2 separate regions of the Homo sapiens genome follow, and region 2 is linked to region 1. A link means that fine-mapping ties the variant in region 1 to the expression of a gene that starts in the linked region. Tissue or cell type: esophagus mucosa. Region 1 holds a variant in brackets; the other region holds the start of a gene. All regions are shown on one strand. Distances are between the middles of the regions.

Region 1 (2,759 bases):
GTCCCCATCCAAATCTCATCTTGAACTGTAGCTCCCACAAATCCCCACATGTTACTGGAGGGACCCAGTGGGAGGTAACTGAATCATGGGGGTGGGTCTTTTCCATGCTATTCTTGTGATAGTGAATAAGTCTCACAAGATCTGATGGTTTTATAAAGGGCAGTTCTCCTGAACATGGTCTCTTGCCTGCCTCCATGTAAGAGGTGACTTTGCTCCTCCTTCGCCTTCTGCCGTGATTGTGAGGCCTCCTCAGCCATGTGGAAATGTGAGTCCATTAAACCTCTTTCCTTTATAAATTACCCAGTCTCAGGTATGTCCTTATAGCAGTGTGAGAACAGACTAATACACCAGCCACTAGCCTTTGCGTGTATTTACATATACAACTCCTGTCATGCTTACCAGGACCTTATGCATTAGCTAAGATGTACTAGTTTTCTGGGGCTTCTATTACAAAGTATCGTAGACTGGGTGGCTTACACAACAGAAACTGTCTCACAGTTCTGGAGACTAGAAATTCAAAGTCAAAGAGTGCAGAGTCGGTTCCTTCTGAGGGCTGTGAGGGAGAATCTGTTCCATTCCTCTCTGCTACTCTCTGGTAGGTTCAGGCCTTTCTTGGTTTGGAGATGGTTCTCTTGTGTCTTTATGCCATTTTTACCTATGCATGTCCATCTCTGCATCCAAATTTCCCTTTTTTTAACGACATCTCATGTTAGGTTAAAGCCTACCCTCATGACCTCATCTTAACTTGATGGTCTGTTAAGGTGATCCAAATAAGGTCACAGTCACAGGTACTGGCGATTAGGACTTCAGCGTCCTTTGTGAGGACACAATTCAATGCATAACCAGAAGAAAGGAAATTACCTGACAGTGGGGCAAGACGACTTCTCAAGAAAAGAAGGAAACACAACTGGTATAACAACAAATGAAAAGAAAATGTGACTGGGCGCGATGGCTCACGCCTCTAATCACAGCACTTTGGGAGGCCGAGGTGGGTGAATCACGAGGTCAGTAGATTGAGAGCAGCCTGGCCAACATGGCAAAATACCGTCTCTACTAAAAATACAAAAATTAGCTGGGTGTGGTGGTGCGTGACTGTAATCCCAGCTACTCGGGAGGCTGAGGCAGGAGAATGGCTTGAACCC[G/A]GGAAGCGGAGATTGCAGTGAACCGAGATCGCGACACTGCACTCCAGCCTGGCGACAGAGCTAGACTCCATCTCAAAAAAGACTCTGTCTCAAAAAAACAAAAAAAAAGAAAATGTAAGAGAACAATCAGTAACCATGAGACTGGATTTATACGATTATGTTTCTTGGGGAAATGGTATTCCCAAGAAACTCGGGGGATTTCAGATTATTGTGTTCTCAAAACCCCTCAAGAATTCCTTTAAATTTTATTGCCAATCTCAGGCTTAATGACTAGGAATGGAGACTCCTAAGTCCTTTCACTGTGCGGTTTTATTTTAATCATATGTATATAAAATCAGTATGAAGCTTTTTTCTTTGAGATGGAGTCTCTGTCACCCAGGCTGGAGTGCAGTGGCATGATCTCGACTCACTGCAACGTCTACCTCCTGGGTTCAAGCGATTCTCCTGCCTCAGCCTCCTGAGTAGCTGGGAGTACAGGCGTGCACCAGCATGCCTGGCTAACTTTTGTATTTTTAGTACAGACGGGGTTTCTCCATGTTGGCCAGGCTGGTCCCAAACTCCTAACCTCAGGTGATCTGCCCTGCCTTGGCCTCCCAAAGTGCTGGGATTACAGGCATGAGCCACCGTGCCTGGCCAAGTTTATCTACCTCAAGAAAAATCCCTCTTACTTCTGAAAAGCCTGGTTCCCTCCCTCTGGGGGACCCTCCTGGAACCCCTGGCATGCTATGGTCCACTTGTTTGCCACTGCTGCTGGCCTATGAGCTCCACAAAGGGAAGACTCATAGCCACCTTTCTCATGACTGTATCCCCAGGTCCTAGCATGGTGACTGTCACATAGTAGGAGCTCAGTATATAATAGTGAAATGAATGAAATAAAACAATCCCCCTCACGCCCCTTCTTCTGTGTGTATTATGACATTGCTGTCAGGACAAAAAACCCAGAAATACCTGAGAAAAGTATAAAGCCTGAGAAAAATATTGATAGCATTAAGCCTCTTATCCAAGGAGCATTCTGCCTTCCCACCTTTCCTAAAGCTACACTCCAAACTCTTCTGTATCTGGGTTTAATCAGCAGAAATCTGGCTAACTGGCTAGGTATAGTGGCTCACGCCTGTAATCCCAGCCCTTTGGGAGGCCGAGGTGGGAGGATCACTTGAGGCCAGGTGTTTAAGACCATCCTGGCCAACATGGTAAAACCCCGTCTCTACCAAAAGATACAAAAAATGAGCCATGTGTGGTGGCATGCGCCTGTAATTCCACCTACTTGGGAGGCTGAAGCAGGAGAACCACTTGAACTTGGGAGGTGGAGGTTGCAGTGAGCCAAGATTGCGCCACTGCACTCCAGCCTGGGCAACAGCCAGACTCTGCCTCAAAAAAATAAAAATAAAAAAGAAATCATCTAACTACAGGTTCCCAACTACAAGCTGACTGTAATTGAGTAAACTGGTATTAAAGATTTCTAGCAAAAAACTGTTCATTTTGTAACAGTATTCCAGGCTTCATTCTATCTCCAAACATGGAGAGGAAACACATGAAAGTTGGTGAGTAAAATCTAGGTGAAATACAACTGACAATAGAAAAATACTCACTTGAATTTGCATGGTTTCCTGATGGTTA
Region 2 (2,759 bases), 150 kb after region 1:
TTTTTTTTGAGATGGAGTTTTGCTCTTGTTGTCCAGGCTGGAGCGCAATGGCGCAACCTTGGCTCACTGCAACTTCCGCCTCCCGAGTTCAAGGATTCTCCTGCCTCAGCCTCCCAAGTAGCTGGGATTACAAGCATGTAATCCCATTACACCACCACGTTCGGCTAATTTTTTTTTTTTTTTTTTTTTTGTATTTTTAATAGAGACGGAGTTTCACCATGTTGGCCAGGCTGGTCTCGAACTCCTGGCCTCAAGTGATCCTCCCGCCTTTGCCTCCCAGAGTGCTGAGATTACAGGCGTGAGCCACCGCGCCTGGGCCAGATACGTATTTTCAGCACTGGTTGTGCAAAACTCACTCCCCACCTCATCTTAAGAACTTAATGAACCTTTTGGTAAAACGCCAATACCAGCATAAAACAAATTTCTTCAGGATACAAATATTTTCATAATTTGTATTAACTCAACCTAAACTTTACCAGCCTGAACTGCTTCTTCAAGGCTTGACTAATACACTGTTAGGGAGTATTTTAAGCAGCCTCCACCCAAGTGCTTACCTTGTAGCTCTATTTATCTGCCTTAGGCATTTACTGGACTCCTTTCAGATTCTTTCCCTCGCTAATGTTTTCCGGTATCATCTGATAACTGAATAGAAAATGCTGTTCTGAATCACTACACCTCACTATCAACCATATCACAAATAAATTATGTTATATATTATATATAAATATTATAATGGGCTATTTAAACTAAGCCAGCCGTCTTACCATGTGCTCATGTGGGATTTCCTGTTTCAATGTTGAATAATAATATATTTTAAAGTTAGCAAAGCCATTTCACCTGCAGTCGTTGATTTCTTCAAAATCTGAGCATTTAAATCCATTGCCAATGTTTGCTTAAAGAACACTGTTTTCTTAACGAGTCTTCCAAATCGGTCCTTACAGGAAGAACCTCTGAATGCTATACGCATATATGGACGGCTGCGTGTCCCTACAAAGTCAGCCTGTTACTTCCACTGGAGAAACAAAACTCTTGAGAATCGCTGAGCTGTAAAAATGTTAGAAAGCCGGTGTCCCAGGCGCCCTGAGAAAGCCGGGAGAGGGCGGTGGCTGCCCACAGGCCGCCTCCAGCCCCGCGCGAGGCCGAGGCCTCAGCGCGCCCCCCGCCCCCGCGGCGCCTAGCGGCCCCGCCGCAGGGCAGGCCTGGCCGGGCCTCCCCGGGCTGCGGCGGCGCCCCCTGCAGGCCGCGGCGGGCAGAGCGGGGGGAAGGAACCCGAGCCGGGCTGCCACCGTGTCCCAACCGGTGCCGCCGCCGGAGCTTCTCCGGGCCCCGAGTCCTCGCCGAACGCCCTCCTCGCCGCCCGCCGCGTCCCGGCGCCCTCCGGAGCCGCCGAGCCGCCCGCGCACACCTGAAGCGGCCGGGCCAGGCCCTGCCTCGATCCTCAGCTCGTCCTCCCCGCCCCGCACCGGCCTTCACTCTGGAGCGGCCCCGGCAGCCGCAGCAGGGGCGGCGGCGGCGGATCGAGGAGCTCTCCAGGTCGTCCCGGGAGAGGCTGCTGCAGTCCCGGGACAGGATGTTCTCCAAGTTCACCTCCATCCTGCAGCACGCCGTGGAGGCGGTAAGGCCGCGGGCTGCGGGCGCACGGCAGGCCGGGGATGGCGGCGGCCTACGCTCCCCGGCGGCCTCGGGGACAAGCCGGGCGGCCTTGGCCCGGCCCTCGGCGGCCCTGTCCCCGGTTGGGGTGAGGCCCCAGGCGGGCGCCCTGGGCGGCCGCCGGGTCGTGGGGGCGCCCGGGGCCTCGGGCCTGGCTCTGCGGGGGTCCCGTCGGTCCCTGGCTGCCCCAGGCCGGCAGTCCCTGCCCTCCTCCAGGAGCCGGGGCGGGGGTGCCGGGGAGGACCTGGCCGCCCAACGCCGCTCGGTGGTCGCCTCATTCCTCTGATGGGGCCGGGGGTTCGGGGAGCACCTGGCGGGGTCGCAGAGAGCTCCCCCGGGCTCCCTTAACGTTAACCTTCTCCGGAAAAAAAGTGGTCAGCGTTGAGCAAGACAAAAGAAACGAGCAAGCACCGCTTGGGCTTGGTTCTGTTTTGTTTTGGTTTTCGGGGGTAGAGGTGGGAGAGGCATGGTCTCGCTGTGGGGCGTCCCTGGCGAGGGAGCCGCCGACCAGCCCCCGGGTTGCTGGCTTTTGCTTTCTTGGGCCTGGAGGCCGAACTCAGCTGAACCTTATGTATTGATCTGAAATAGGAGTTTGGAGGGTCCAGTCGAGTTTGCTTTCGACAGCTTCCAAGCTCACCGAGCCCAGAGACCATCTGTTTCCTTTCTTGTCTAGTTCTCTTCCTGGACACTCTTCGTTTATCCTGCAATTGTACTCTCCTTTGAGGGTTTTAGACACCAGCATAGAGACAGTATTCAAGTATCCTAGTAGACTAATAAGTGAAAAGAAACTAAAAAGAAAATGCCTTGTCACTGTTCTAGTAAGAATGCTAGTTGCTTCACTTGTTTACTTTATTCTGGGAGAACTGCCCAAATTGAAAAATGCATTCTGTGCAGAAACAATTACTTTGCTAATTTTTAACATGACATTCTCTTCCTATGTTCATATTATGTGATAGGACACTTTAAAATGTACACTTTAAAAATGTCAGATACAACAATGATTTTTTATGGGCAGGCAAAAATGGAGTTTTTGCCTTCAGTAATAAAAACAAACTTTAGTACAATTGTTATTTAAGTGATACATGAGAAGCGTTAAAAAATTTAGCTCT

Evidence for each region. PIP is the estimated chance that this variant, and not a neighbour inherited with it, causes the effect.
Region 2: it holds the start of FHIP2A, and the variant in region 1 is fine-mapped to the expression of FHIP2A in esophagus mucosa (GTEx, PIP 0.97).

The regions. Positions count from the first base shown.
Region 1 is chr10:114,675,260-114,678,018 of GRCh38, forward strand. It overlaps a transcript of ABLIM1 not described here. Among named protein-coding and RNA genes, the nearest start is that of ABLIM1, 18 kb to the left of the region's middle. The variant G/A (reference allele first, on the strand shown) is at 1,143.
Region 2 is chr10:114,820,509-114,823,267 of GRCh38, forward strand. FHIP2A (FHF complex subunit HOOK interacting protein 2A) reads left to right here and starts at 1,272. Exons shown (of 17, transcript NM_020940.4): 1 at 1,272-1,615. The coding sequence starts at 1,571. It overlaps LOC124902508 (translation initiation factor IF-2-like), which reads right to left and starts at 2,440. Exons shown (of 2, transcript XM_047426127.1): 1 at 765-2,440. The coding sequence starts at 1,593. The coding sequence ends at 988. RefSeq lists silencers at 1,021-1,330, 1,341-1,690, 1,751-1,970 and an enhancer at 1,676-2,176.